Linked DNA regions of Homo sapiens: region 1 is linked to region 2. The links come from fine-mapping of genetic effects on gene expression. A gene starts in region 2. The other region holds a variant in brackets. All regions are shown on one strand. Distances are from middle to middle.

Evidence for each region. PIP is the estimated chance that this variant, and not a neighbour inherited with it, causes the effect.
Region 1: its variant is fine-mapped to the expression of DDX53 in prefrontal cortex (CommonMind, PIP 0.95).

What each region holds. Positions count from the first base shown.
Region 1 is chrX:22,731,112-22,747,593 of GRCh38, reverse strand. It overlaps PTCHD1-AS (PTCHD1 and PHEX antisense RNA), which reads left to right. Exons shown (of 12, transcript NR_073010.2): 4 at 4,256-4,365. Among named protein-coding and RNA genes, the nearest start is that of DDX53, 260 kb to the left of the region's middle. The variant T/C (reference allele first, on the strand shown) is at 4,251.
Region 2 is chrX:22,991,666-23,008,480 of GRCh38, reverse strand. It overlaps DDX53 (DEAD-box helicase 53), which reads right to left and starts at 8,521. Exons shown (of 1, transcript NM_182699.4): 1 at 4,892-8,521. The coding sequence starts at 8,423. The coding sequence ends at 6,528. All of the region lies in intron 3 of PTCHD1-AS (PTCHD1 and PHEX antisense RNA), which reads left to right.

The DNA of each region.
Region 1 (16,482 bases), 260 kb after region 2:
TTCCTTCACGCGGATTCTTCTGAAAGAACAGACTATAGTGAGTTTAAGCAAGTATTTGTATGGGTGAAGTGTTTCTTTTAGGGATCACTCTTACATCTTGCAGTCTTTCAACTTTCTCTTGCTTCTCACTTCCCAGATATGAATATGTAAATGGACCAGAAAAGAGTGGGGTAGCTTTCTGACTTTATAACTTCACACTGAAGATAAAGGATAGATGCGTGATAGTATTTTCTCCTTAGATTGCCAACCATTTAAATGCCAAATCTTCTCCCATCTTAACTCATATGAGAATAATAAAAGTCATTTAAATGGAGGTTGCCATGTGTTCATTTATTCAAGAAAACTTTGTTGAACACTTAGTAAGTACAAGGCACCATATTAAGGTAGAAAGGTGAATAAGATAAGTACAGCTCTTTTCTTCATTGAGCTTATGGTCTAGCATCCTTACTAATTCAGTATCTAAAATAGCTAATCACTTGGGTTGTATAATTTAGCATCCATTAGAAGCACTCCAAGAGGCTTGGCTGGGGGGCATTTGTAGGTCACTCAAATGAAATGTTAACTCCTTCTAGGCTTTATTTAGCAAGTCAAACTTAACACCTTCAATATAGGCAATTAGGATCAAAAGGTGTTAAAGCACATTCAGGCACAAAGCCATCTATCAAATTAAATTACTTAATCTTTCAACTAGTTGCTTTTAAAGTAAATGACCCTCCAAAGTTAGTGGGCATTAGTGTGGCCTAATGTTCAAATGCAGTTTAAAATCTAAATGCTGATATTCTAAACAGATCACACTCACCCTCCCATGAAATGTATCCTTGATTTTAGACTTTTCCCCTTAAGAGATGTTTAAAAGTAGGTATCTCCTCTTTCTACAGAGAACAGGGCCATTTTTTTTAGAGTAGTCATCAGTGTGCCATTGTAAGTGGAAATTGTGCATTATGAACTGAACAATTCCAGGAATTCTATGTCTAACCTTGGGTTCTCCCAAAAGTATATCACGAGACAAGAAGTGGGTTCAGGTAGTTAATTATAAGAAGTGCATACAAGAAGGCAGGGGAAGTGAGACAGAGAAGGGAAAAATCCCTAAAAGAATTTTAATAAGCAGGTTATCTCAGTGGACTCCTAGGCCTCAGTCCTATTGAGGACCCTCTGAGCAACCATGTAGAACGTGCTTCAGAATAATTCCATCAGAGAACAAAGTAATATGAAATATTTATCTGCCAACTCTCAGCCATTATGGGTTGCGGGTAATCCCTAGGGCGGTTAAGTTTCAGAGGCTTCTAGGCTTCCCAACAAGCAGGCTGGGCAAGCTGCCACAGTTGCAGAGAAAGCCCTTGCATGGAGAAGCAGTGAAAACAGGCACTTGCAGTGGAAAGTTATCAGCATACTAGGAAGTGTTCACTACACCTACATGTTTATTTAAAGGTGGGCTGAGGGGATATGAGGCGGAGCATCCCCAGCATTGGTACACCCTGCAAATTGCTGTAAACTGGATTTGCTTAAAAAAGAACCATGATTAGCTAACATTTGACAAAATGTTGGTCCATAGGCTTATTTGGAAACAATACTTTGTTTTCTGCAACGCGTCCAAAGAAAATTTGTGTACATGTAGATTTATAGCACTTAAAATCTTATCACAGTAATGTTTATTTCATCGTATCAAAAACTGCATATCATCATTTCTTCTTGCCCATACCCGTGATTTTTCTGAGGGCTAAGAGGAAAAGGGTATTCAATGGAGCAGTTCGCCTCTACAACAGAGAAAACAAGGGATGTTAAGTTCAGGGTGCCATTCATGCCACATTTATTCATTGATGATAGTAATACCTTGTGCTTCTTTACCAGCTTTTCCCATTTGGCCTGATGACAACATCCTTGGAGTGTCAGAGAAGTTATTATGACCTTTACTTTACAGCTGAAGAAACTTTGTTTTGTTAAAACCATGAATTGTGCACTTGGGATGTACTCTATATTGGGTTAGATGTTCTCCCTTAAGATAGTTCAGTTAATCTTGCCCAGAAACTTGGGTATTTTTGTCCTTGTTTTAGGGATGAAAATTCTGATCAGGGACTGGTGGAGTTCCCATGAGGCAAGAAAGTCTGGTAGCAAGACCCAGTTCCTGAAGCTTCAACTTCAGTGTTCATTCCCCTGAAACACTTGACCTTTCCAGGTTGTCACCAGATTCCCCCAACGTTCCCCAACAGATATCTAGTCTTACATGTTACAACTTTCATAGGACCTTGCATGGTACCAAATTTGTTGAGTGAGTACATTCTACACAATCACAACACACTGAAGATATTTTTTATCTGTGCAAACTTGACCTCCATCCAGATGAGAGCTGATTTGATTAAAAGGTTCATGAGACAACACCCGCTGATCAATCAATGTTTTATGTAATCTACTTCCTTCTGCTTTCTACCAGCTTTCACTTGGTTAGTTACGCCTGGGTATTCTACTTATTGACTAGGCTCCAAGGCCACATGTGAACTGGCTTTTCCTTATGTCTACAGCCTCATCTCACAGGGAGCTCCCTCTCATTCTCTCAGGTGTAGCCACATTGGCCTCCTGTTCATCTCTCTTACATGCCGTGCTCTGTGTCATCGGTGCAGCATTGAACATGCTGTTTCCTCTACCAACAATGTTGTTGCCCTTTGTCATCACCAAGTAAACTCCTGCTTATGCTTCAGATCTCAGCTCAAGCATCACTTTTTCAGGGAATCTTCTCTAACTTATCCTCTGTAGACTCTAATAACACTATGTGTCTCTTTGTTGCTATTATTAGAACTTTATAATTTATGTGTGTGTGTGTGTGTGAAGATTTAATCAATATGTGTCTCTCATACCATCTTGCATGATCCATTACAGCAAAATCCTTATTTGTTTGGACTTACCAATGTACCCCCCAGCACCTAGCAGCCAGCTACCATAGGGCCTTACACATGGCAAGCACTCAGTAAATATGTCTTGAATAAAATATATCAATCTATGTTAATAATTCCTCTGAGTTGGACCTAGAGTCTTGTTCTCAGCCCTAGTGTTTCTCACTTAGGAAAGTACTGCCCCACCCTGGGGGCATTTGGAAATGCCTAAGGGTGTTTTCTGGTTGTCAGGATGACTAACTGCAACTAACGGGATTTGGTGGCAGAAGGGATAATGATCATGTCACGTGTGGATAGTCTATCCAAGGAATAATTGTTTCACCCAAAATACCAGTAGAACCCTGTGAAACACTGCAAGAAAGATTATGTATTACAATAGTAGGCATCTAAAGTGTCTAAAAATTGTGGAGTTTGGGGCTTTTAAAATTCTTTATGATATAACTATACATATTTATGGGGTACAGTGTGATTATTTACATGACTTATACAGTGTATAGGCACAAGTTTATGTGTGGATGTGCATATGTGTGTGTGACTGCTCTTTTTAGTTAATCTTATGTCAATTAGTAATTAGTTTACAGATTATTTTCCCAAGTGGTGTCAGAAAGAAGGGCTGCAGGGAAGCAGAAGGAAATGGCGATAGGAAAACTGTCTGACAGATCAGAAATGTTAAACCTAAAAATGACAAGGGGGGGTCCCATGTTAATCTGATTTATACTGCTGATATTTCCCTATATATTTCCTAAGTTCTTTCTTGCTTTTCTATTTTTATCTGGCTTCTTATTTCTTCTCCAGGTTAACTCCCCATTCTGACACGTTCATGTGTTTGCTTTCTTCCTTTTAGTTCAAACAGAGAATTGAGATTAATTTTCTGTACTGTTTGTGTCCAGAGTCACAGCCTGTGGTTGCGATAGAGAAGCTTGCTAAAGCCTGTGTCAGTGTTTCTGTTATACCATGAGAGCAGTCCAAATGTCAGTGGTAAAGTTTCCTTTACTAGACTGAAAAAAATCATTTTCATCATACCTTTCCTGCATCAGATGCCTGGAAAAATACGGGGCAGAGATGAAAACTACTGTAAGATAATGGGACAAAGCACTAGATGGGGACTCCAGACACTGGGGAGCCCTACTGACCAACTCGAAATCATTTAACCTCTTTTGACCTTGGTTTTACCATTTTAAAATAATCAGAAGGCCAGACAAGATAGCCTCTAGGGTCCTTTTCTGATCTAAAATTGAGTTTTCAAGTTTGACAAGGGATAAGGGAGGAGAAAAAAAGATATAGGAGATGTTATCTTGGAAACTAGGTAGGTGTATGCCTTACCATGTATGAAATTGTAAATCATGTCTTATTTCTTTGGAATAG[T/C]ACAGAAGCTTCTATTCTGGAATAGAACAGCTAGCATACTACCAAGACTTTTCAAGGAGCAAGAATGGAGCTCCCTGGAGAACTGACTGAACATGGCTTCAGAGGCAGTATCCATGTAAGTAACTACATAAGAGTTTAAGTGGGCCATGGGGATAAACCCACGCTTTAATCCCACTTTCTGACTGTCTTCTATACACCAGGCTTGTACTTATCCACTCTAAACCATTGTTTCCTCAAGTGGAAAATGGGAAGGATGGTAGCACCCACTTCACAGGATTATGGTAACTAAGTGAAAAAATGTCACATGAAAACATGTCTTAGCACATGGTAAGTGCTCCATAAATAATTGATGTGATTACTATAAGCAAGCTAAACTGATCAAGAATGGAACCATTTAATAAATGATTCTTTGGTTACCAGAATTCTGCCCCCACTGCAACCCACCTCTTCCGGAATGGCTGATAAATGCTTGCATGAAATAGCCACTCAAATGGCTGCTACCAGTCAAATGCTGATAAAAGATATATTTAAAAGGTATTACTTATTACTTTTTATTGAAAAGGTATGATTACTTTTTATAAATTTATTTCTGTTCTTAAAACTGCTACAGATGGTTCTGACTTTTGAATTAATCACACTGATCTAGGAAAAGGCCACATTTACTGTTTAGTCTATCGTGGATTATGGAGCCTCATGTGACTCACTGATAATTTTCTTTTATTATTCCTTCCAGAGACATAGAGACAAAAAGTGCCCTCACTTTTACTGTATTTTGACCTGGACCAGTCTACATTTATATGAATAGCTACAAAGCAGCTTTCAGCACAAGGCTGTAGGGTAGGTTCAGATTTGGCCTCTCCATTAATTAGTAAGTACCATTAGCTGGGCAGACAGCTGCCAAAGGGACTTTCTCCACACTCCCATGAGTTGGTCACAGAGATGTTACTGTACTTTTTTACTCATCACCATGATTAATTGCTGCACTTAGTTCATAATTTCCCCTGGGAGTTAACCCCTAGCTTGGGATAAACACTAAGGTTTTGTCAAATCCTCCCATTCTAAGATTGGAATATTGTTGCATCATCCTGTTGGATGATTCAGGATTTTAAAAGTTCAGAGCACTCTGATATTCCGACAATTATATACACATTGTTTTCAGTCTTCTTCTGCTTTATGATCCTTGTTTATATTTCTTTGTGTCATTCTTTTTAGTAATTATTTCCATCGTTTCTTAAGCATAAACATGTTCTAACTGGCTGTGCGGTAGTGTTTCAATAGAGCTCGTCATTTCTAGGCAAGCTCTTCTAATAATATTTTATATTTTTAATTTATCTCCTTATATTTTGCTGTAATATGGGTTTCATTGATTTTTAAAATGAGTTTTGTTTGTTGTAATATAAGGTTAATTCTGTTATGTGCCAGAATTATACATTTGACAGTTTTCCATGGAATTATTTCAATTGGCAAATTAAATAAACTCAGACTATAGCCTCAGTATTAGTATTCTTAATGGATACACTTTTTAAAAGTAAAGACAAATTCCCTGACCTAAATAGTTAGGCAGAAAATGAGACATGTAAAGTAAAATCAGTATTTCGTTTCTTTGAAACTTTATTGTGACTTGAAACAGTGCAACAAAATATCAGTCTAATGCCATATTACTGATTTTACCAGTGCTGTAATTTTTAAATAATAAATGTATACTTTACTGATTAATGACTTGAGAGCTGCTTACTCTTCATCAACGTAAAACTGCTCTTCAAGTTTCCCATTCCACCTCTGCGGTATCACTTACTTTCAATAAGCTCATCTCTCATTTAATTTAAAATGTAAGGTAGTACATTCAATAGCTCTCTACATCAATTGTTTTTAACTAGATTAATTTATGCCTATGTAAGTATAAATAAGGCCTTGAAGTTGCTTGCGTGATAAATAATAAATAAAATACAAATTGTTGAACAGATCAATGGAAAAGGAAATAAGAGTGGATTAATAAAATAAAACCAGAAGATACAATTAGTTTAAGAAATGCCTACTGTAAAATCCCATTAAATCACTAGAAGTAGAATGTAGATTTGGCTCTGAGCTTCCCAGTAGCCAAAGCAAAAAGAACTGCATTATTTGCAAGGTTGACTGTTTTTGTAATATGTTTTAAGGTTTTGTTTCACAAAAAACCATCTTTTCCTGATATGAGCATGAAGAGATATTTCTCTTGAGAGTCCTGATGAACAGCTTGTTACAGGATATGAAACACATTGTCCTCAACGTCACTCTGACAGTAATTTCGAAGGGAAGTTTCTGTATTTTTGTTTCTCAAAAACGTGAATTGTAGCAGTAATGCCAAAGCAATATTCAGTAACACCAGTTTTACATGTAACCAAAACAATGGAATACAAGTTTGGGAACAATGACATTACATGTTTTATCCAAGAATAATATTTGGCTACTCCCGAAGAATGAATGACCTTTATATTCTTCATTCACAAATATATATTTATGTGAATAAAAATAGAATACAAGTACAACACTATTATATTTTTATTTATTCAGTCACCTGTGATTTGGGGTTCAAAGTATTGACAAGGACACCTGAATTTTTCTCTAATATACTCTGAGATGGCTTTTTTTGAAGTGTTTTTGTTTTGTTTTGTTTTGTTTTGTTTTGTTTTGTTTTGTTTTGAGATGGGGTCTCACTCTGTCACCCAGGCTGGAGTGCAGTGGCATGATCTCAGCTCACTGCAACCTCTGCCCCCTGAGCTCAAGCGATCCTCCTTCCCCAGCCTCCCAAGTAGCTGGGACCACAGATGCACGCCACCACACCCGACTAAGTTTTTGTATTTTTGGTAGAGATGGCATTTCATCATGTTGCCCTTGCTGGTCTTGAACTCCTGGCTTCAAGTGATCCGCCCGTCTCAGCCTCCCAAAATGCTGAGATTGCAGGCATGAGCCACCACACCCAGCCAGCTTTTTGAAGTTTTGGTACAGTAATTACCTGGAGTAAACAAGGTGGTGATACAGGAATACCTGAACAGTGCAGAAGGCTTAAGGAAGTAAAAGGTTAGAATAGATTTATTTTGTGATAACAGTGAACCCACCACCTGACCGTATTCCCCAGAGGGGTCATAGGACAGTTCCTTCACTCAGGCAATAAGAAATGGCAATGATCAACGAAATGTCCTCTGAAGGCTAGGGTAGACAGAAAGACATGCTGCCATGCAATTGGACCTCCTAATATCAATGGAGAAAAGAGGGAAATTCCGGAATGGTAGAGGCCAAAAGCAACACTTAACCTTCAGAGGCAAGGCAGTCTTTGTCTCAGATGCTGATTTTTGGGAAACCCCAAGATAAGACAATGATGAAGGCAAAAACCAACTCATTTTACTGGATTATTTTATTTGTATTGCTACGTAATAATTGTACATATTTAGGGAGTACATGTGATATTTTGATACATGCATACAATGTGTAATGATCAAATAAGAGTATTTAGGATACCCATCACCTCAAACATTCATCGTTTCTTTGTGTTGAGAACACTTCACATTTTCTTTTCTAGCTATTTTGAAATATACAGTAAATTATTGTTAACTATGCAATATAGAATTACTTGCTACTTTACTTATTTCTTAGCACTTACAAGTTTAAATTCACTTAAAATGTTATGACCTAGAAAGGCCTACATATTTTCATTATGACAGTACAGCACTTCATCATTTAGTAAGTCTTTTTTCTGGTTTCTTCTCCCTACCTCCCCATTTTTAATAATTGAAACCACTTTGCTTTTGATCATCCCAAGCACTTAAGTGACATAAGTCTTTCAGCTGCTGGATGAATAATGTATTTATAATATTCATAACTGCGTGTAAAATAAACAGCTCATTTGTTTCTATTAACGTAGTCGTTTTGAAGTCTGTTCTTCCTCTCAGATTCTTTTGCCAATTTAGAAGTGAAAATATATATATAGAAATTGATTCAGTCTTAATGACTCCCACTTAATTCTTCAAACTGGAAAGTAGCTGGGTAAATGACTCACTATGGAACTATTTCTTACCATTACAAATGTTCTCCAGCTACTCTCAGTAAAATACCTTTATAAAACACCTAATATGTGCCCAGTATAATGCTAATTTAAAAAGAACTCCTGGCCGGGCGTGGCAGCTCACGCCTGTAATCCCAGCACTTTGGGAGGCCAAGGCAGGTGGATCACCTGAGGTCAGGAGTTCGAGACCAGCCTGACCAACATGGTGAAACCCCATCTCTACTAAAAATACAAAAACGTTAGCTGGGCGTGGTGGCGGGCACCTCCAGCTACTCGGGAGGCTAAGACAAGAGAATCGCTTGAACCCGGGAGGTAAAGATTGCAGTAAGCCAAGATCACGCCACTGCACTCCTGCCTGGGTGACAGAGCAAAACTCCATTTCAAAAACCAACCAACCAAACAAACAACAACAACAGCAACAGAAAACAAAAACTCCTTAAAGCTACTCAGGATTGGATATAAATTTTATATAGACATCCCCAAAGATGTAAGTACTGAGATATAATCCCTGAAAAAAGATAGTTACATACATTTGGATCAACAAAAGTGTTTGACTATCTTTGCCCTGGCCTCAGGTAGGTCTATAAGAAGACTTTAAGGATAAACCAAAGGTAATAATAAATAAGTTAACATACACTGGAAGGATAAGCACTGGGAAAACTGAGCAAGGAGTGAAGTTTATCTTTAATCTCCCTCTTCCCCTTTCTGTATCTTCTAGTATCTGAGATCCCTGCTATCTGTCAAAAGCCTATTGGGCATTTCATTCCAGACCAGTCACCCCCTCAGTAAAGCTTTACACCATAATAGGTGTGTGTTAGGAGCTTGGTGCCAGGGGATCTTGAAAACTGAGAGACCTCTAAACCCCAAAGCTATGATTCTGTAATGGGGTGATTTCAAGCATTGCTGCAAGTTAAAATTTTAGGGTAAAAAAGCATTATTCCTTAGGATTTGCCAAGCACTTTTTGTACCTAGAGGCAAAAGAGCCCTAAAATCACTTCTCCATGAAACTTTCTTTGACACAGAAACTTAGAATTGTCCTGTTAAATCTTAACAGCTAATGGTGATCATCTGGTGGTTGTGTGATTTTCTTATAAAACACAGCTTTTTTAGGATTGTTTGAGTTTTCCAGTGTGTCTTTCTTGCAAGTATCCTCTCTTATTTAGAACATAATCTTGGCAAGAAGCTGTGTGACTATTTGCCTTGACTTGCTTGGACCAAACACAAGCAGTCAAAATAAATTTAAAAGATGAAAATGATGATTCATTTGAGGTATTTTTTTAAGGTCCTCGCATGTGTCCTAGAAACTAGGTTCTTTGACACTATTTCATTTTGGGGGTCAAAGAAGAGAAAGCTCCAGGATCTGTCAAATTAGTTTTTAAAGGAATATGTGTAAGAAAGCTAGGGAAGGATTTTTTTTCCCCAGTAATGTATGCCATACCACATTTAAAATAAGGAGCAGTAAATGCATGGAGTAATATTTTGTATGCACAGATGGATATATAAATTAGTACCTCCTATTTTAAATGGAATGCTTCCAAAAGTCTTCTATTCTTCCTTCCTGGAACAGGCAGTTCAGGGATGACATAGAGACTAATAGATGGAGTGTTTTAGAAGGGATTTAAGCCCGGGGTGAATGGTTGGACTAACCGACCATTAAGACCATTTCCAAACCAGATGTTCTATGATTTTATGAAACCATATATGAAGCCTATTATCATGTTTCTAGGTTTCTTTTTCAAAATTAATTATATTAAGTTCACAAATAATTTTCCTAGCATGCTTCACATTGTCTCAAGCTATGATATAATGTTTGGTTGAGTTTTAGTTAAGAGACCATGTGCGTTTAAAAAAAAAGATATATACATAGTACCTAAAACTACCAGAAAAACAGTGATGACTGGAAATCTCACTTATTAACATCTTTAGTAGAAACAATACATGGTACAGAGGGTTAAAGAAAGATAAGACGTGTATGCTTATGGAGAAAAGGGGTCACGCTAACCAAGAACTTTTTTATTTTTGAAAGACACAAGGTAAGGTTTATGACAGGGAGCCCATCAGTCTTAAAATCATGCTTTCTGACTCAAATCTAAATATCAGTATTGAATATTGTGTTATAATGAATAACACTTGCACCGCCTTGTTTGTTTCAAACAATATGATGTTATCAAACACCACTCTCAGTATGTCAATAAATACAATTGTGTATACTTCAGTTATACAGAGAGTTAATATAAGTTCAATAACTGGCATATTTGTTATTAAATAGGATTGTAATAACAGGTCTTGGTGTTTCTGGACTGTAGCACAGCTAGGTGAATCGTCCTCCCTGACATTGAGCATCAAAAAGTCTTTTTACTTGCCACTCATTTTGCAAGGTCTCAGGGGACAGACGTTTTGCAAACTCTGTGAAATCTTAATAACAGCCTAAAGGAGAGATTGCAAATGTAAATGAACAGCCACAGCCCCTTTAAACATGACTATATCACACAGATGCTATACATAGCAGCTGAAAGCCAAATAATGGTTTGAACTGAACATGACTGGACGATTAAGGTCACCTTCCGCAGCTTTATAAGCAGTTTCTTATTATAATGGTCTTCTGACATTTTTTCTCCTATGACATAATTGTTGCAAGAGGTTGACATTCTCATTGGCTCATGGGAACATTTCCTTCTTTCATTTGCCTTTTAGTCATGTGTCTGAACTTTTATTTGGTATTTCCTCTTTACAGTGAATCCTAATATCAATGAGATTCAATACAATAACTTTTCTAGAACTTGATTGAAGGTATTGGTGTTTTTTTCAAGTATTTGCTACTTATTACTGGCTATACCTTTTTTCTTTAAAAGTATACTTTTCTATTTATGATGGACAATTTGAAAAATATAAGAAAATGATCACCATGATCTCATGATCCAATGAGCTAAAATATTGTATTTTAAATTCTTTCAGAACCTGTTCTATGCATATATGCATATAAAAATGAAGTTTGACTTACTGCAAATAAGTTTATCTTGCTTTTGCCTTTTTATGATTGGTTATTTTATATATAACAAGAATATCATACACACGTGAGATATGTGAATAAGGGTAATATAAATACCCCTGAACTCACAATCATGCTTGAGAGATGCAACATTTGAAGTTCCCCATGGGCACCCTATATTGCCCTCTCCAACACTATCCCCTTCTCTATCCCACTCCCCAAAGTGGACACTCTTCTCAATGTGGAGTGACTGCTCTGTCAATTTTCTTTATATTTTTGCTACACTGGCATGGTGACTCTCAAATAATGATACTGAACTTTAGGAAATCTTCTGCAACTTTTTTTCACTCAACATTTTGTTTATGAGAATCATCCATTTTGAAATATATGAACATTTCACTTCTATATGGTATTCCCTATTGAAAATATACCATTTTTATTTATCTGTTTCATATCAATGGATGTTTAAAAGCATTAGTATGAACACTTCCCTATCAATGGATATTAAAAACAACAGTGGTATGAACATTTTCACCCATATCTCTTAATGAAAATGTGCAAGTGTTTCCTTAGGGTCTAAATCTAAAGTGCAATTACTGGGTTGCAGGACGTGCTCAAAATTCAACTTTATTAGATAAAAATATTTTACCAGAATGGTTCTTCCAATTTATACTTTCCCTAGTAGCATAAAAGTGTTCCTGTTATATCTTGCTTTTATCACTTAATATGATTAGCTTTTTCTCAAGTTCAGATGGTCTGTCTTTCTCTAGGCTCTCTCTACCTCATCAAAATGCTTGCACAATCATGTGATTTTCCTCCATATGCCAAATCTTGAGTAGACAGCCCATAGGAGGCTCTAAGCAGGCTAATCAACATGGAGACACTCCAGAAATAGTTGAAAATAAGGCTTGTTGCCAAATATATGAAATATTTTTGCTCATCTCTTTGTACAGTAGTCTCTCAGGATGTCTTTTGAGTACCACGCATACATATCCTCCATACACATATCCTTTAAATATAGCTTAAAAACCATAGCAGAGCAAATTGTCCTTCCTACTATATATGTCCTTGTTTATCTTTCTTCATCTCTTTTCACTTTATAGCACTGGTAGCAACTGGTAAACAGTACAGGATATCAACACACAATTTTTGTTGTAAAACAACGGATAAAAATCTGTTTGTTCAATCAGAAGTAAGAGTGAAAAAAAATAAGGTTGACTCAGGGTCAGCATAGCAAATAGATGGCGTGCTCTACTGGAAAAACTGAGGAAAGCTTAATACGGGGCATACTGGCAATTGTATGAGCAGGATTAAGAAGGGGAACTAACAAGGCACAACAGAGTCTCCAGACTAGCAACAGTGGGGAGCCATTACCACCACTTGGGCCTGAAGATACAGCAGGAGGGAATGATTACTGGCATGGAGGAGGAGTAGCCTTCAGGAGAGAAAAGGAGCCCCTGTTAATTTTGTCAAACAGGAAATGAGCAAGGAAAATAAATATCTTCACCTCACACTCATTCTTGTTGATTTCCAGTAGGTTTTTTTCCATTGGCTCCACCCAACTGAATGTCAGAGAACAAGAAAACTAATTTGATGTGATCCCTAAAAGCATAAAGCAGGGTGGAACAAGTTGGAGCGTAGATATAGAAGTTCTAGGAAAGTAAAAACATGGTGATTAATTAATAAACATAGGTCCTTTGGTTTTTCTCAGGTCTGATTTTGTATCTGATTTTTTTTTTTCAGTATTGACAGGAAGATGGTAATTAAAGATATTAGAAGCATGGACTTTTAAGTATTGCCTTGAAAAATGTCTTTGAATTTGTACAGTAGCTAAAATCAGCTCTCAGCATAACTGCTCAGTCATTTTGTTTTGCTTGACACATATCTGAGATTATGCATGTTATAACAAGCACTCTGGAATTAAAAATCAAGCCAAGGGGTTTTGTTTGTTTCTTTTGTTTTGTTTTGTTGGTTTGTTTGTTTTCAAATCAAAAGATAGCATCTTGAATTGCCCCATTATAATACGCTTTCATTCATGATGTTTGGATTATGTGCATAGTAAGGTCTCTTTATAACCTAGCCTTAGTGATAAAGGATGAGTTTTATAGCATTTTAAAAATCTATCTTTTCAATTTTTATATCTTTCTCTAGCACCAACAGTAGCCTAGTGTTTCCGGATGCCAGAGAAAGCCTTTAGTGGCTTTTCACAGTAGTTTTTTTTTAGATCCATTTCTTCTCCAGGTATCTCTCCCTTCAAGAAAATGTGTCTAAAGAGCTCCATGGAGGAAAGAACTCAGGATACTTTACCTAAAGGAAAAGGACTAAGAGAAACCACTCATTTTACCTTCTTTGTTGGATGCCATGCTTGTACAGTCTACAAAACTATGAGCCAAATAAACCTCTTTTCTTTATAAATTACCCAGTCTCAGGCATTCCTTTATAGCAAGGCAAAATGGACTAATACATCCCCCATCTTCTCATTATTCTTGTTGATTTCTAGGTTCTTGACCCACTTAAGTTTTCTAAAACCAAAGCTGTGCCTGATTAAGCACAGAATAAACAAATATTGTTTAATGAGTTCAACCTAATGGTATCTAGGGATATAGGAGAACATGTCAATATCATCTCCATTTATTTCTTTACAATTGTGATTCAGCCTCAATACAAATGAATCATATTTGTCAAGCTAAAATGACATTTTCCATCATTTTTCTTTAGAATCTATCTTTAATCTTGCCCCTCTTGGATATACTGTTTAAGTCTACTTTGTTTTTATTTCTTAGCCTTAGAGTGATATTGCTCCTAGACATAATTGTGAATTAGGTGAAATTTGTTTTCAACTTTCCTGACCTTATATCCTTTTAGTATTTCATTTCCTCTTCCTTCTTACCACCCAGTGGTGTGCTGGTAAATATTTAAACAACTAGATTTCATGGGAGAAAAGGGTCCTGATTTATAATATTTGTAGAGCTTCCAGGGTGATGTCTACTGGCTTGCAAAATTTCTGAAAATTTAACAGCTGGCTCTTGTGAATTGGTATCAGCCAGCTTCAACATACCACAAACCTTATTCACTACTTGAGGATTTAATGTGGCTCACACATACTGCCTAGTCCCTCAATTCACCTTCCCTATGTCTGCTCTAATTCTGTCTTCCAGGTAGTACACCATGTTCTTCCTCAGCAACTTACCTGCCATATGTCCATTTTTTTCCTTCCTGACCATGTCAAGTAACTGACAAACCAAGCTTGGAAACTGACACAAGATGAGATGTTAATGAATGACAGATTCAGTGGGACAGCATATCCTCAAAAGGACATTTGTCAGAAAAAGAATGATGGTTTAGAAATAGCAGTGTTGAATACAGACTAGGGCTAGGCGATGGAAGGAATAATATTTGACAAAGAGTTTGAGAATACAGAAGAGTTTACCATGAAATAAGAGTTCCCAGAGAACACAGTGAGATGATTTGAGAGGAAGGAGAAATACGGGAGTAAAGGTCAAGGTAGGCCTATATGGAGCAATGTGGGAATAAGAGTTTGGAAGAGTTTAAATGACCCAGGGATTTACAACCTGGGCAATGACCAAGGATAACATATATGTAAGCATGGCATGTTGAACTCACCTTAAGGCATCCAAAAGAATCAAATACAGCCATTCTGTGTTTAATTAGGAGTAGATTTGAGAATATGAACTATGCACCAGTATACTCAGAAGAAATCAGCAATGAACTGGATTGATTTTGTTTCCGAGGGAGTAGTAAATCAGGAGAATAAGCCTGACATGGCATTTTTTTGGTTTTCAGGCATATCACTACTAGGAAACAGGGTCAGCCTCCATGGGAGAATTTAAATTTGGTGTAGAAATATATACAGATTTATTATATGCTTCGTTGGTGTAAGCTGTATGTCCCATAATTTTTACTTAGAGGCCCAGTCTCTGTGCATGGACACTGAATTGTTGACTGTTCTTTGTCCTTGAATTCAGCTCTTGCTGACTCTTGAGAGTTTTGCTCCACCTTCATCTCTTCTCTTTGTAGACTCCTCGTCTGATAATTTTCTCTTTGACTTTAAGATTTCCCTTATTAGGGAAATAAAGTGTCTTCATTTGATTGTATTTTGCAAGCTAGCAACAGCCCTGTGTGTTTCCTGTTCCTACTTTTTTAACACCCAGGATCACAAGAAGGTTTTTACGCTATCTTTTTCCATTTCCTTTCCAGTCAATTCCTTATTATTCTTTGAAACTCTGCTTTGCTTCTTCAAGGAAGCTTATTTCTCTGAAATTTAAAAAAGCACCTCATTATTGAGAAATCAAATACCTTTAACTCTGTAAATTTTTACCAAGATTTTCTGCTGACTTTGGCATTAATGCCCACTCCCTCTTCTATACTCTTTGCTCATGTTCATAAAAAAGTCTTCTATCATTATTCTCTTTTGGCAAATTCAATGAATATTTAAAATCACTCCACTTTATCCTCTACTTTACTTATCTGAATATTTCCAATTCTTGATCAACAACCTTCCTACAATGATTAAACTTTAACCTCTGAGTTCAAGTGTTTTCTCCTTAATTCCCAATTCTATCTTCTCTCTTAAATTACATAGCTAAATACTTATAGGAGGAGAATAGAGGAAACAGATATGCTAGATGTGGCTAGACTTCTACTTTCGTAGATTTGCTTTGGAACCGTGTAAATATTTTGCCTAATTGTAAAGAAATATTAATAATTTTGAAAGGTAATCCACAAATCTCAAAAGAAAATGAAAGGAATGAATGTAACACCATTGATAATCATTTTTTAATATTACTCAGAAATGGTCATGCATATGTTGTGAGATAAAGTTAATCATTATACTGATGTCACTGAGAACCCAGACATCTCTCATGAGAGAGAGGAGAAACATGTGTACGTTTGATGAGGTTAAATAAAAGCTCTTCAGTCCTTGGTAAGAAAAATAATCATGGCAGACGGGAGGCAGGACTAGATTGCAGCTCCAGACAGAGCACCTTGCAGAAGCTCACATTGGGAATTTTAGCTCCAGATCAACTGCAAGAACAAATCAGCAATCCCGAGAGGACCCACAGACCCTGTGAAGGAAGCCGACTGCTCCTTCAAGGACCTGGGAGACACCGCAAATACTGTGAGTGCCCCAACTGCGGAAATGGGACAGGGAGACCCTCCTCTCCCAAACACACACCCCCACT
Region 2 (16,815 bases):
TTTTTTTTTTTTAACAGAGTCTTGCTCTGCCACCCAGGCTGGAGTGCAGTGGCGCCATCTCAGCTCACTGCAACCTCCGCCTCCTGGCTTCAATCGATTCTCCTGCCTCAGCCTCCTGAGTAGCTGGGATTACAGGCACCCGCCACCACGCCTGGCTAATTTTTTGTATTTTTAGTAGAGATGGGGGTTTTACCATATTAGTGAGGCTGGTCTCGAACTCCTGACCTCAGGTGATCCACCCGCCTCTACCTCCCAAAGTGCTGGGATTACAGGCGTGCATCACCATGCCCAGCCAGTGGAGGATTTTGTATTGCGCAGTGCACAACAAATGAATATCCTCTTTTTGTTTTCCTTCATAAAGTCCCTTCTTGGCTTCTCTACACCTAGGTTTGCGCTTTTATTTTTGCTTAATCCATTGCAAGGTTTCTCAACTGTGGCACTACTGACATTCAGGCCAGATAATTCTTTGTTTTAGGGAGCTCTCCTATGAATTGTGGGATGTTTAGTGGCATCCTCCGACTATACCCAGGAGATACCAGTACCACCACCATCACCCCCAGTTATGACGACTGATATGGTTTGGTTGTGTCCCCACCCAAATGTCATCTTGAATTGTAGCTCCCATAATTCCCATATGTCGGGGAAGGGACCTGGTGAGAGGTAATTGGATCATGGGGCGGGTCATTCCTGTGCTGTTCTTGTGATAATGAATAAGTCTCATGAGATCTGATGGTTTTATAAAGGGGAGTTTCCCTGTACAAGCTCTCTTGCCTGCTCACCACATAAGACTTGCCTTTGCTCCTCCTTCACCCTCTGCTATGATTGTGAGGCCTCCTCAGCCATGTGGAACTGTGAATACATTAAACCTCGTTTTCTTTATAAATTACCCAGTCTTGGGTATTTCTTCATAGCAGTATGAAAATGGACTAATACAGTAAATTGGTACCAGTAGAGTGAGGTGCTGCTGTAAAGATACCCAAAATATGGAAATGACTTTGGAACTGGGTAACAGGCAGAGGTTGGAACAGTTTGGAGGGCTCAGAAGAAGACAGGAAGATGTGGGAAAGGTTTGGAACTTCCTAGAGTCTTGTTGAATGGCTTTGACCGAAATGCTGATAGTGATATGGACAATAAAGTCCAGGCTGATGTGGTCACAGATGGAGATGAGGAACTTGTTGGGAACTGGAGCACAGGTGACTCTTGCTATGTTTTAGCAAAGGGACTGATGGCATTTTGTCCCTACCCTAGAGATCTGTAGAACTTTGAACTTGAGAGATATAATTTAGGGCATCTGGCAGAAGAAATTTCTAAGCAGCAATACATTCAAGAGGTGACTTGGGTGCTGTTAAAAACATTTAGTTTTATTCATTCAGAAAGATATGGTTTGGAATTGGAACTTACATTTAAAGAGGAAGCAGAGCATAAAAGTTCAGAAAAATTGTATACTGATGATGTGATAGAAAAGCAAAACCCACTCTCTGAGGAGAAATTCAAGCCAGCTGCAGAAATTTGTATAAGTAATGAGGAGCCAACTGTTAATTCCCAAGACAATGGGGAAAATGACTCCAGAGCATGTCAGAGGTCTTCATGGCAGCTTCTCCCATCAGAGATCTGGAGCCTAGGAGGACAAAATGGTTTCATGGGCTGGGTCTAGTGTTCCCCTGCTGTGTACAACCTAGGGATTTGGTGCCCTTCGTCCCAGCCATGCCACCTGTGGCTGAAAGGGACCGACATAGAGCTTGGGCTGCAGCTTCAGAGGTTGCAAGCCTCAATCCTTGGCAGCTTCCACGTGGTGTTGAGCCTGTGGGTGCACAGAAGTCAAGAATTGAGGTTTGGGAACCTTTGCCTAGGTTTCAGAGGATGTATGGAAACACCTGGATGCCCAGGCCGAGATGTGCTGCAGGGGCAGGGCCCTCAAGGAGAACCTCTGCTAGGGCAGTGCATAAGGGAAATGTAGGGTGGGAGCCCCCACACAGAGTCCCCACTAGAGCACTGCTTAGTGGAGCTGTGAAAAGAGGACCAACATCCTCCATACCCCACGATGGTAGATCCACCAACAGCTTACACCGTGCACCTGGAAAAGCCACAGAGACTCATTTCGAGCCCATGAAAGCAGCCGGGAGAGGGGGTATACTCTGCAAAGCCACAGGGACAGAGCTGCCCAAGACCATGGGAACCCACCTCTCGCATCAGCGTGACCTGGATGTGAGACCTGGAGTCAAATGAGATCATTTTGGAGCTTTAAGATTTGACTGCCCAGCTGGATTTCACGCTTGCATGGGCCTGTAGCTCTTTTGTTTTAAGCAATTTCTCTCATTTGGAATGGGCAGATTTACCCAAGGCCTGTACCTCCATTATGTCTGGGAAGTAACTAAATTGCTTTTGATTTTATAGGCTCATAGGTGGAAGGGACTTGCCTTGTCTCAGATGAAACTTTGAACTGTGGACTTTTGAGTTAATGCTGAAATGAGTTAAGACTTTGAGAGACAGTTGGGAAGCCATGATTGGTTTTGAAATGTGAGGACATGAGATTTGGGAGGGGCCAGGGACAGAATTATATGGTTTGGCTGCATCCCCACCCAAATCTCATCTCGAATTGCAGCTCTCATAATTCCCACATGTCATGGGAGGGACCTGGTGGGAGGTAATTGAATCATGAGGGTGGGTCTTTCCCACACTGTTCTCATGATAGTCTCATGAGATCTGATGGTTTATAAATGAGAGTTCCCCTACACAAACTCTCTTGCCTGCTCACCATGTAAGATGCACCTTTTGTCCTCCTTCACCTTCCACCATAATTGTGAGACCTCCCCAGCCATGTGGAACTGTGAGTCCATTAAACCTCTTTTTCTTTATAAATTACCCAGTCTTGGGTATTTCTTCATAGCAGTATGAAAATGGACTAAGACAACAACCCACCAAATCTTTCTCCAGACATTGACAAAATTGGGCCTGGTAGAGAACCACTGATGTAGACTACACCAAAGACAGGAAGTTTGTAGGGATACTTTTTCTCTGCAAAACCCGCAAGATATAACTTAGAAACCCTCTATTTTTTTTTTTTCTTTGACGTGCCTTTTTGGTTACTAAGCAGTTGGTTTTGGTTGTTTTTCTTATGCTGTCTCAGGGGTTCCCCATCTCAGCACTATTGTTTTGTGCCAGATAATTCTTTGTTGTGAGGGGCTGTCCTGTAGATTGTAGGGTGTTCAGCCTCTACCCACTAGATGCTAGGAGCACCTCACCCCCTACCCATAGCTGTAACAACCAATACTGTCCACAGATATTGTCAAAGTTCCGCTGGGGAGCAAAATCACCCTTGGTTAACAGTCATTGCACTATTTCTACTTATCTTTCTCTATACACTGGTTCTTCTGTCCAGCATTATGTTGTAGAAGAAATGCATACATCTCTCATTTCCTTACTCATAGACATTGAGTGATAATTTTTCTTGTTAAGTGTTACTTACACATGATTATGGAAATATACTATCTCAAGTGGTTGAGTTGTTGCATTCTTTTCTAACAAATATAGCATTGCCCCTAAGAATAATTCTGGAAAATAACATATACTCTAACTTGCTAAACATTTATCATTTCTCCTCTTGAGTGAACAGCACTAAGCCATTTGAGCTTCTATTACAGTTCTGCTATAGATTGCCTTTGCATTAAATTTGCACACACTTCTCTATTTCACTAAATCTGAACTTGTAGAGAACCTCAAGACAAGCATATTGCCTTTAAACATAATAACTATACTAAAATTAAAAAATATAAATATTGGAATCAGGCACTGCCGGGTCAAAATATCCCTTAAGTCCTCTAAATATCACTTAATTTCTCTTTAATCAGGTTTAGGGCCCTTAGGCAAGTTAGCTCCTCTGACTTTGCTTCATCCCCTGCAAAATAGGGGTAAGATTTCCTTCCGAGTGGCGTTCTTATAAATATTAGAGATTAGGAGATAAAGCGCCAGGTATGTATCACTCAACAATGTTAACCATTGTTATTAATTTTATCCAGAGATATTAAGGTCTACATTTTAAAAAGCCTTTAAAGTCTATACTTTAAGCCTTAAATACCTATACCTAGAACATTTACTTCTTTCTTTCCCTTATTTTCTGACTTATTTGTAGTCACAGGTAAGGCATGCTGGGGAAAAAAGTTTGTTGCCTTAATTTTTCTCTTGATTTTACCAGAAATGTTAACTAATTCTAATGTTTTCATGAACACTGAATTTTAAAGTTTACTTAACATCTTTGTAGGGATTTCTTTTTGCAGGTGTGAGAAGCACCTTGCTTCTAAATAAGGCATAAGAGGTAGAATTATAGATAAAATTAGGAAGAGTTTTACTAAAATTGGTTCTTATGGCAAAAACGTCATTTGGTTTTTTTTTTGGTTTTTTTTTTTTTGAGACAGAGTTTTGCTCTTGTTGCCCAGGCTGGAGTGCAGTGGCACGATTTCAGCTCACTGCAACCTCTCCCTCCCGGGTTCAACTGATTCTCCTGCCTCAGCCTCCCGAGTAGCTGGGATTACAGGCATGCGCCACCACACCCAGCTAATTTTGTATTTGTAGTAGGGACAGGGTTTCTCCATGTTGGTCAGGCTGGTCTTGAACTCCTGACCTCAGGCGATCCGCCCGCCTCGGCCTCCCAAAGTGCTGGGATTACAGGCGTGAGCCACCGCACCCAGCCCTTATTTGATTGGTTTTAATGTTTTTCCCAGTAGATAAATTTTTCTTTCACTTTAATTTTTTCCCCGATATATGTATCTATATATATATGGTTTTGACCTTCAAATTGAATTAAAATAAAGCATGATGAAAAGAAAAGCAAAGAATAAAATGAAAACCTACCAGTTAAATTGCAAAATCAATAAAAATGCAGAATGCACTATTCTTGTCATTGAAAAGGATTGTTTTATTCAATTATACAAGGATGCAATTTCCCCTAGATTAGACAAAAAAGTGTTAATACAAGGCTGGGGTATACAGTTTTAGTTATAATGTCACCGAATTTTAGAGGTAAAAGAGACCTCTAAATTAATAAAACTGTCCCATTTTATGAGTAGAGAAATTGAGGCCTAGAGAAGGCAAGTGATTTCCTCAGAGTTTTAACCAAGGGTTAGTGACAAAATGCATACAAGGACCTGAATCCCAGTGAGTCAGACATCCTGCTCTGCTGGTGACATCATTCTGATAAAAATAGAATTGTGGAATCTTCTAAAAAATTTAGCACTTATTTTCTAATGAACTAAAACAAGTAGAGAATGATAGTGGAAATAACTTTAAGAACTGTTGTGGCACCAACTGCTCGGGGGAAAAGAGAATACTTTGACTGGATAAGCTTGAAGCTATGCTTCAATTTAGTACAACTATTTTAAAGCCAGAAAAGCACCATTGTTGTCTTCTACCAAGTGTTTTAGAGAAGACAAATGGACATGGTAGACTATAAAATTAACACAAGAACAGAAACTCAAATACCACATGTTCTCACTTATAAGTGGGAAGCAAACGATGAGAACTTATGAACGCAAAGAAGGAAACAGCAGACACTGGGGTCTAGCTGATGGGGGAGGGTGGAAGGAGGCAGAAGAGCAGAAAAGATAATTATTGGGCACTGGTCTTAATACCTGGGTGACGAAATAATATGTACAGTAAACCCCCATGACACGTGTTTCTTTAACAAACCTTCACATATACCCCCAAACCTAAAATAAAAGTATTTTTAAGAGAAATTAAACTTTAACCAACACATAACATTTACTTTCTCTTCACATAGTCTCTCACTCTCTCATTTTTGAGACTTTTTTAAAATTAAGGAACATACACAATATTGAAAGTTGATAAACCCCCATGACACGTGTTTCTTTAACAAACCTTCACATATACCCCCAAACCTAAAATAAAAGTATTTTTAAGAGAAATTAAACTTTAACCAACACGTAACATTTACTTTCTCTTCACATAGTCTCTCACTCTCTCATTTTTGAGACTTTTTTAAAATTAAGGAGCATACACAATATTGAAAGTTGATAAACCCCCATGACACGTGTTTCTTTAACAAACCTTCACAAATACCCCCAAACCTAAAATAAAAGTATTTTTAGGAGAAATTAAACTTTAACCAACACATAACATTTACCTTCTCTTCACATAGTCTCTCTCTCATTTTTGAGACTTTTTCTAAAATTAAGGAACATACACAATATTGAAAGTTGATAAACCCCCATGGCACGTGTTTCTTTAACAAACCTTCACATATACCCCCAAACCTAAAATAAAAGTATTTTTAAGAGAAATTAAACTTTAACCAACACGTAACATTCACTTTCTCTTCACACAGTCTCTCACTCTCTCATTTTTGAGACTTTTTTAAAATTAAGGAGCATACACAATATTGAAAGTTTAGCAGTATTATTTAAGAATTAGTTATGTCTTCAAATGGCTAGTATGTTTCCAATACTTCCTTACATATATTCAATACTGCATATCTTTAACATGCCTGGAATCTTCCAGTAGCCTGGTACAACTTTTCAACTTAAAAAATAAAACTCCTTGCGTCTTTGTCCAGGTTTTCTTGATCGTGTTTCTCTGTGCCTCTTTTGTTGATTTAACTTGTATTGCTCAGCCATTACTACAAGATCTTCCGGAACACTCTGATTTGCTCTGTCCAGAATTTTAATCAATTCACCGGCCATTTTCGAATCTCTCTGAGTGATGAGGGTAACTGATGTGCCAGTCTTTCCTGTCCGTCCAATGTACCCTACTCTGTGTACATATACGTCAATATTCCTTGGGAAATCATAATTATATACATGTGTGACATCATTAAGATCAAGACCTCGGGATACTATATCAGTTGTAATCAGTATCTTTATGTTTCCGCTTTTAAAGTCCTCTACTGCTCGCTCTTGATCACTCTGTTCACTGTTGCCATGTAATGATTCTGCAGATATGCCTTGGATATTGAAGTCGCTTGACAAGTCATCAGCAATATGTTTTTGGCTGACAAACATGATGACTTTGTCGTTGGGTGACATGTTCTCTACGAATTCTTGGGTGAGAGCTCGTTTTTCTTTTTCTGTGGTAACAATTATATTTTGCTTCACTGTATTTACAGCCACTAGATTCAGATTACCAACATAAACAATCATAGGATCTTTCAAATAAGAAAGTGCTAGTTGACGTACAGTATCTGGCCAAGTTGCACTTGTCATAACAGTCTGTCGGTCTGGGCGCACATCTAATAAAATCTTCCTTATCTGGGGTTCAAATTCCATATCCAGCATTTTATCTGCCTCATCTATAACCAAGTAGGTTATGCTTCTTAGGTTGACAGAGTTATTCATTTGTAGGTCATTCAGCCTCCCAGGAGTTGCAATAATGATATCTACACCTTTGCTAATGTCTTCTATTTGTCCATTTCTGTTTCTACCACCATATATGCAAATGCTTTTGAGACCTTTATATGAATACTTTGAACATTCAGCTTCCACGTGAAGAGCCAACTCTCTAGTGGGTGTAAGGACTAGCATCCCAGGCCCATTCCTTTGCTCTCTAGATATTGGTTGAGAATCAAGATGAATAAACCCAGGCATTAGATAGGACAATGTTTTCCCTGTTCCGGTTTGTGCAACTACTATAAGATCTATTCCTTGTAGAATAATTGGCCATGCCTGTGACTGAATTGGCGTTGGCTTTACAATCCCTACCCTTATTATGCTTTTCAGAAGATCAGGGTATTGCTGAAAAGCGTCTTTAAACCTGCAAGTTGGTTTTGGAATGAGACGCTTTTCACCACTTTTCAAGTCATCACACGTTATGTTGAAATTTTCCTTTCTCCAGTTAATCACCTGCATTTCAGACATGCAGCTTGTTGCTTTGGATTCTATGTAAAAGTTTTTCTTAACTGGTGGTAGATCTGCCCATTTTCTCTTTTCGCACTCCACGACTGCTGCCCTAATGCGATCCCAATTTGACAATGGCTCAGCTTCTCCAACAATGTCATTTCTGCCTAGATTTCTTCCAATAGGGGTTTGGGATGCAGCATTATCCACACTGGATTCTGAGTTGTAGCTTTCTTGTTTTCTAATAAGTGTTTCTATAGCCGCTTTGGCCTTTGCTTTCATTTCCCTATTGCCAAAAATTCTGACTTTTGCTTCAGATTCCCCGTTTATGATCTGTATTTTAGTGTTTGTCGAATGTTGTAGATCTTTTATTTTTGATCCACTGTAACCAATGACCACACCAACCATATTGTTCTTTATTTTAAAGCAGAGTGGTGGTTCACGGGAGCCTGCTGCTCTCGGTCCCTGATGGCCGAAGGGGCCACTCCAGCCACTGCCTCTGCTGCCCCTGACATCCCAGCTGGCCCCAAGGTCTCTTGGATTAGCCTCCGCCCTCTTCCACTCTGGGGCCCAGTGGGACATTGTGGGATAGTGGGAGTATCGGCACCGGCTTCTCGCCTACATACGGTTGGAAGTTCAGGTCTGCGGCCTGTTTCCCGTCACCTTCTGCACCAAAAGATGGCGGTGGCAATTATTTCCGGGTGCTAGTCACATAGCTACGCAGAAGTTGCCCCAGAAACCAGTGTTGGCGTCGAATTCCGGGTCGTGTAGGGGGCGAGGCTTTGATGGCCTGACCAATCACAGGGCTTGGACTGGGGTGAGGTAAGCAGGCGTCTGTGACGCAAATTTAAAGAGGCACTCACTCTCACGGGCTGACCCTGCCAGCACTTACAGGACCCTAGGAGTAACTGCCTCCTTAACTTCTGCGTCCCGGGTGCTCCTTTCACTCTTCTCGTGATAGTTCTGGCTCAGCTTGAGAGCAACCTTGAAGCACGCCTTAAACATACACACCATATACACATTGTCCTTTATATAAGCCAGTTATTTCCCTAAGAGAAAAAAATAATGCATTTAAAGTAAAACTATTTATTTATATATTCGTGTGTTCATTTATTTTGGTAAATTTCTTTTGGAGTGAATACAGTACTTTGTCAGGATAAATTCATCATTCCCTGTCCTCTAGTGTAACTTAAATTCTACTAATCAGAAATCTCTTAGGTGCACACTCTAGGACAGCGTTTTGCCTTAATTCATCAACTAAATGTCAACACTTGTTTAGGCAGTTTCCAGATATTATTACAGGGATGATGGTTAGAAGAGAGGTAAAGCAGTGCCTAAGGTACTTTAGGGGCTGTTTTTAGTGGTTTGTCACTTTTCTCAGTGCCTCTTCATTTTTTTTCCTTCCCTGTGGTTTGATAGCTTCTGAGACCTTAGCACTGGAAGGTTGTGTAGAACTCATTTATTAGGTACACGTAGAAGACATTCTAGCTGCAGTCTGGACAGAGGGATATCCAGCTTCCATTTAGACACTCCCAGAGGCAGGGAGCTCACTTCATTTCAAAAATATCCATTCCATTATGAGGCTGTTTAATGGTTACAAAAGTTTTTTGAACCAAAACGTGCGGCTTCCTGTGTCCTTAAGTCCTTCTGAGTTCTGAAGTTATACAGAATAGGCTTGATTCTCCTGTATCCTTGTGTACTAAAGGATCTGTCAAAGTTTTCTTTTTTTTCTTTTTCTTTTCTTTCTTTCTTTTTTTTTTTTTTTTTTTTTGAGATGGGGTTTCACTCTTGTTGGCCAGGCTGGAGTGCAATAGCATGATCTTGGCTCGCTGCAACCTTGGCCTCCCGGGTTCAAGTGATTCTCCTGCCTCAGCCTCCCGAGTATCTGGGATTACAGGTGCCTGCCACCAAGCCTGGCTAATTTTTTGTATTTTTAGTAGAGACAGGGTTTCACCATGTTGGCCAGGCTGGTCTCGAACTCCTGACCTCAGGTGATCCACCCGCCTTGGCCTCCCAAAGTGCTGGGATTACAGGTGTGAGCCACCGCGCCCAGCCTCTGTCAAAGTTTTCTGTGCATCAGGGCAACATTTCCAGTTTCTTCGACGTTTCTTGCTATGACATGGTTTCCAAGACACACATCATCCTATTGCCTCTCCTTTGGAAATGGTTCATTGAGGACCATTTACAATGTAGCACGCAGAACTAAAAAACAGGAAAAGACAAGCAAACAATCTGCAGAAATGGCATTACTCCTACTATTAGGGCATCTTTACTGAGCATGACAATTCTACTAATTTGACCTAAGAACTCCTGAGACACAAAGCTGCTCACAGTAACATGACGTGCATTTAAGTTCTTGCTTCTTTTACTTACTCAGCTGATTTTTTTTTTAATTTGCTTACCTAAATGAAGACTATGTATGTATCCTTTTATAGTCATCTTATTAAGTTTGATCAATTGATGTAACCTATGAAATATAATTTTAATGATTATTCTGTCATCCATCATATTAGTCTCTAGTTTCAAGTCTTCTGCCAATTTAATGTTCATAGCATCTTTGTCTCTTTAGTCAGTCACTGATTAAAATTTCATCATGGTCTAGTATAGGACAGAAGTCTGACACCTTGGGAGAAAACTTCTCTGTGTCAGTACTTTTTGTAAAAGATGCTATTTGAAGAAATAAAAAGGTTTCTGGTCAAATATGTTTGAGAAACACAGCACCCTATATTCTCTCTGTTAAAATCACAATGCTTATTGGATATTTTAGGAGCTATGATATTTACAGACATTGAGAAAAATCAGTTGTTTAATCCAAAGTTCCCCAAACGAATTTGCTAATGGATATCTTCATCAATTATTTAAATAAGCTTTTTATTTGGAATAATTTCAGATTCACAGAACAGTTACGGAGGTAGTGCAGAGAGGTTCCTGTATAGCCTCAGCCAGTTTCAGTTTCCTCTAATCTTATCATATCTCATTATCATGATACATTTGTCAAATATAGGAAAACACTATTGGTGTGTTACCATTAGCTAAATTCCAAACTTTATGCTACCAGTTTTCCATTAATGTATTTTTTCGGTTTCAAGTTCCACTCCAGGACACCATACTGCATTTAGTTATGTACAGTTTGTGAGAGTTTCTCAGTTTTTTCTTATTTTTCATAATCTTTCCAGTTTTGAGGAGTAATGATCAGGAATTTTGTAGAATGTCCTTCAAAAAGGTATGCTTGATGTAACTTCTCATGATTAGACTGGGGTTATGGGCTTTTGGAAGAAAATATCACAGAGATGAAGAGCCTATCTCATCACATCATACTGGGGAGATAGGTACCTGATGTCAACGTGACCCATCATTGGTAAGGTCAACCTCGGTCCCTTGGATAATTTGTGTTATTCAAGTTTTCTACACTGTAAAATTATTATTTCTCCCTTTCCATACTCTATTTTGTGGAATGAGTCACTAAGTCCAGACAACCCTCAAGGGCTCAGTTTGCATTTAAATGCAATCTTTATTATTATTTTTTACAATTAGTAGTGTTCTTTGGAATGTATTTTGGAAACCACTGGTATGGATAAATACAAATTACCTGACCAATTTTTTTTTTTCATCTGGTTGTTGAACCGGATATATTCTGATCAAGTCACATTACAACTCCTCCATACTTCTCCATGAATTGTATTAGGAATTTTAAGGCATTCTCAATGTCTTCTAGTTTATTCATTATTTTAAAAGGAAATTTGTTTAGTTACACGTGGCTTTTACCTCTTGAAGGATGTATTATGTTTCTCTGTCTTTATGCCTTCATCTTTACTTTGAATAATAGTTAATATTACAGAACTGTAGAATTCTACAGGTGTTGGGTACATCAGAGGTCATTTTGTTCTCCCTTATTACAGAGAGTGAAATTGAGGTTCCAAAATCTTTCTGGAATTGACTGAAGGTACTCAGCAAATTATTGAGAGTAAAAATTTAGAACCATTTGTTGACTTGTGGCCAGTCGGGAAAATAGTACAGGACATTACTCCTTTACTACGAAGTGACTTGCTTCTATTCTTATTTTTTGTGGGTGATACAGAAAAATAGAAGAGGCCATGAAAGTGAAGTGAAGAAAAGTCATATTGTTGGGAGAGGGGTAGTTGTAAAATCTGGGTAGAGAGCAGTGCACTTTAAGGTGGAACTCATTGTGGTGAATTACTGTGATGACACAGAACTGGTAGAAGACTTGTGGGTATTGAAGATACTGAGAGGGATTGTGCTTTCAGGATGATTCATTACCATTTACAATTGCCCGTATCAGTTGGAAAAAATATTTGTCAGCTCAATTAAGGGCCACCAGTGTGATGTTCTTTGCTCTAAATATCTCTACAACGGCCTTATTCACTGTATCTGAAATATTCTCACTAAATATGTATCTCTATGGCTTATGGCTTGGTATGTTATTAGCATGGTCCTGGAAAAACAAAACACAAAAATGTGAATTTGTCGGTTAGATGCTTTCCAGTGGAACAGCTGGCTAAAAGATTCTTTTAGGGCAGAGAGTGGGAAAGATGGGAAGAATGTGTAAAGTTTCCCCCAAGGTAAGATAAAAAGGGTTATGTAAGGAAAGACAAGAGTATGTTTAAGACGGTTTCTACCATTTTGCTTAGGGCAGTCCCTATAATCTTAGAGGCAACAGTAAGAGAGTGAAATATTGCAGGCAGTGAATTGGGCTAATTTGCCATCACTCCGATTTCTTCAAAACTCTCTTAAAGATGAGTTAATGTTGCTGGCCTAAAATAGTCTCATATATGGGACTCCCTTAGAAATGATAGTGATAGTGTTTTATTTAATAAATCTGCTGTGATGGTCTAAGGCAAACTTGACTTATGGAATTCCAGTTAGCACTGTTGATGATAATAATTACAGTTGGTTTTGCATCTGTACAGCACTTTACAATTTATAAATACTCTTTATGGAAGTAGTTTCCTTGGGATGATATATATCTGGCCATTATTCTGTTCAATAGGTGTGCTATATTATGGCAAATGTTGCAATTATCATTGTACATATTGGTATGTTTATTTTGTATATAGAATCATACTCATACCACAGAGTCTAAAGAAGTAGCAGCAGTGTGGTGTAGTTAGCAATCAAGAACACTGGACCTTAAATAACTGGGTCCAAATATCACTTTCACCATTTATTCACTGTGAGTCATGAGAAAATTGTTTTAGTTTTGCTGTCTGTAGAATGGCATACTAGTACCTGTCTCATACACACACACAGGCACACACAAAGTTTTACTAATTGGTTCATAGTAGGAACTCTCCAAGTATCAATTATCCCTGTTACAGAAACAGTAGGTATAGAGAGACAATCATGGAGATTCCCTGTCCAAGGATTTTCCTGATAGCTTCCTCTGGTCCATATCAAAATGAAAAAAAAAAAAAAAAGAAACAAACAAACAAAAAAAACAAGGATAATAGAACTTTTTTACCCAAATCTAAATTTATTCAATGTAAACTTTTTTATTCTAACATTATGCCCTACTATCTTTTGTAAAATATACTTTTAAAATGAAATAAGGATTTCAAATTATTTTTAAAGGTCTCTCCTAGGGCAAGAAAGAATGTAAATCTAATGGCCAGTAGCCTAATTAGGCTTTGAAATGTTATTGGTGTATGAAACCCAAGTGCTTGTAAGCACTGATGTGGAACATCGAATGTGGTTTGAATGTTTTTGTTCCCCCGAAGTTCCTATGTTGAAATCCTAACCCCAAAGGTGATGGTGTTAGGAGATGGGGCCTTTGGGAGGTGACTCGGTCATGAGAGTACAGCTCTCATGAATGGGATTAGCTTGCCCTTGTAAAACAGGCCTGAGAGAAACCCCATGCCTTTTTTGTGATGTGAGGTTACAATGGAAAGGTGGCCATCTGTCAACCGGGAAGCGGGCCCTTACCAGACACCAAGTCTGCTGGTAACTTGATTTTGGACTTCCCAGACTCCAGAGCTGTGAGAAATAAATTCCTGTTGTTTATAGGCCATCCAGTTTATGGTGTTTTGTTATAGCAGCCTGGCCAGACTAAGACAATTAGCCCAACAAACACAAATTAGAATGCTATTAGGTGTTAATAATGGTTGCAGGCAAGAAGGGCCGAAGGGAGGTTGGAGAGGCTGGAGAGTTGAGGCAAAGACCTATAAGGGGAGTGGGTTTGATCTGATACTATAGGAGGTATGAAATTAGAGATAGAAGGATGTTAAAGTTTCAGGGAAAAAAAACAAGTGTGGCCTTTGGGAAGAAATCAGGGCAGCCTGGAGGACTAGGACAAAAAATTCAGGTTAAGGAGAAAGGGGAAATGGAGAAGGATGGTTTGGGTCAGGGGAAAGGAAAAGGGAACTTTTAGGAACCTTAAGGACAGTCAATGAACTATCAAGTTAATATGGTAAAACAGTGGGAAACTTAGAATGAAGGAGTCATATGACATTAATGAAGGAAGTGGGTCCCTTTGGAGAAAGTAGAATGCAGGGAAGTGGGGTTGAAAAATGGGGGCTTTGTTTTTGATATCTCAAGTACATGGGACTGAGGGACTTGAACAGAGTGTGGTAGTTTAGCAGTGGGAACTCGGAGAATGGAACAGATAGAAAAATCACGTCTGAGAAGCAACTAACATTTTTGAGTTCTACTATATGCCAAACATTTTAAGTGTATTATCTCATTAAATTACCACAGCAACTTCATGGTATGTATTTTCCGTCTTTTTCATGTGAAAACATTGAAGCTCAGAGATGTTAGATAATATATCCAAGTTCATGCAAAGTTACGGTAAATAACTTTAAACATGAATAAATTTAAACGTGGATATGGTTAGCTTCAAGGTCTTTTCCCTTCCACCTAATCCTAGTTTCTAGGGAAAAAATGTGCTTGATTTGGTGCCTGGTTCTCAGATAAAAAGAGTCTTTAATTAAAGATGACTCAGTCTTCCAGGTTAGAGACTTATTGAAGCAGAGAATCTTGAAGCCATTCGACAGGAAAGGCGGAGGGGAAGCAGAGGAGTTTGGTTTCAGTCATGTCCAGTTTGTGGTGTTGTGGGGGGCATACAAGTAAAAATGCTAACTGAACCTGGAGATTTGGGACTGTAGTTCAGATGAGAAGACGAAGAGAGATTTGAGAATAGTCAGCATAGAAGTTATAGTTGAAACTCTAATTGAATACTTGAACAAATAGACAGTAGTGAAAGACAGGTTTAAGAACATTTTAAGGAACCATAGAATTCATATGATTAGATAATGAGAAGAGAAAAACAGGAAGGTAGGTGAAGAGAGAGTCTACATAGTAGGAAATAAGGCAGGAGAACTTGTCGAGGAGTTTTGGTAAACAATATAAAATTCTTCAGAATGACAGGAGGGAGGTAGACTACTCAGTTTTGGAGATGAAAATCATCAATGACCTTCAAGAATGCCCTTTTTGGCCCAGCGCGGTGGCTCACGCCTATAATCCCAGCACTTTGGGAGGCCAAGGCAAGCAGATTGCTTGGGGCCAGGAGTTCGAGACCAGCCTGGCCAACATGGCAAAACCCCATCTCTACTAAAAATACAAAAATTAGTCGGGCATGGTGGCATACATCTGTCATCCCAGCTTCTCGGGAGGCTGAAGCAGGAGAATAACTTCAACCCGGGAGATGGAGGTTGCAGTGAGCTGAGATTGTGCCACTGCACTCCCACCTGGGCAACAGAGTGAATGACTCCGTCTTAAAAAAAAAAAAATGCCCTTTTTGTAGAATGATGGAGAAACACGTATTTTAAGGGAAACAATTTCAATGAGAGATGACTAGACCACTGGGGAACTTTGTAGTGATGGAGTGAGAACTTTATGTATCTTGTACCTGAAGCTCAAAGGCAATGTCTTAATTTTAAACAATGCTTCTAGAAAACAAGACTTTCGGGGACAGGTTATTGCAATTGTTCTGGTAAGGATCCAATGGACTTCAGGAAAATTACTTATGAATATTGGAAGAAAATGAACTTTAATAGTCTTTGGAAATATGTGGGAGGATATACAATGAGAGAGGGAATCACAAGGATACAAGAACCATTCATTAGCAGTTTCAGAAAAGGAAAGTCTGTTTAAAAGGAGGGAGGAGAGTGCTGAGAGTTCTTTCAAGGAGATTACAGTGCTATCTTTAGCTACGCATTAAACTTTTCTCTATCAAATTTAGTTTATTCTCCACAGAATAGGGGTATGCATTATTTAGGTATGTGAAGAAGTGAGGTTACTGAAGTAATTAATTCTTTTTTCAGCACAGACAGTAAAAAATAGTGTGAGCTGATTAGCACCTGCAATAAGCTCCTTCAGAGAAATCCTTGCTTACCAACTACTTCCTATAGAAATGTTAACATATTGGTATTCATTTTAAAAATAATAATAACCTTGCCTCTATTTTGAGGCATTTGAAGGGCTTTCCAGAACTATTTCATTTCTGATAACTATGATGTAGGTAAGTAGAAAGATAAACAAGATTATCTATATCATTTTGCATTGCATAAAGAAGTCAAACAACAATTCTTAAAATCATGGGGTTGTAGAGGTGTAAAGGATTGACTTTGGAGAGCATCTCTTGTAAAGCTTTGATTTGCAAGTGCAAAGGCTAAGATCTACACATGGCTCTGTCCAATAGATAATTTTTAATTTGTATTTTTAAAAGTCTCTCAAAATATATCCTCTCTCCTAGGTGCTTTTAAACATTTAAAGAGGAATTAACACATATTCTACAATGTTTTTATTACAGAAGATAGAAAAGGAGGAGGGAACACTTCCCAACTTATTTTATTAGGCTAATAGTACCCTGAGACTGGAAAAAGACAAATCCAGTACAAACAAAGAGAAAACTACAGACCAATATCCCTTATGAACACAGATGAAATAAAACCTCAAAAAAAGTTAGCAAATGGAATCTAGCAATATATAAATGTACATCCATACATATGTATATACA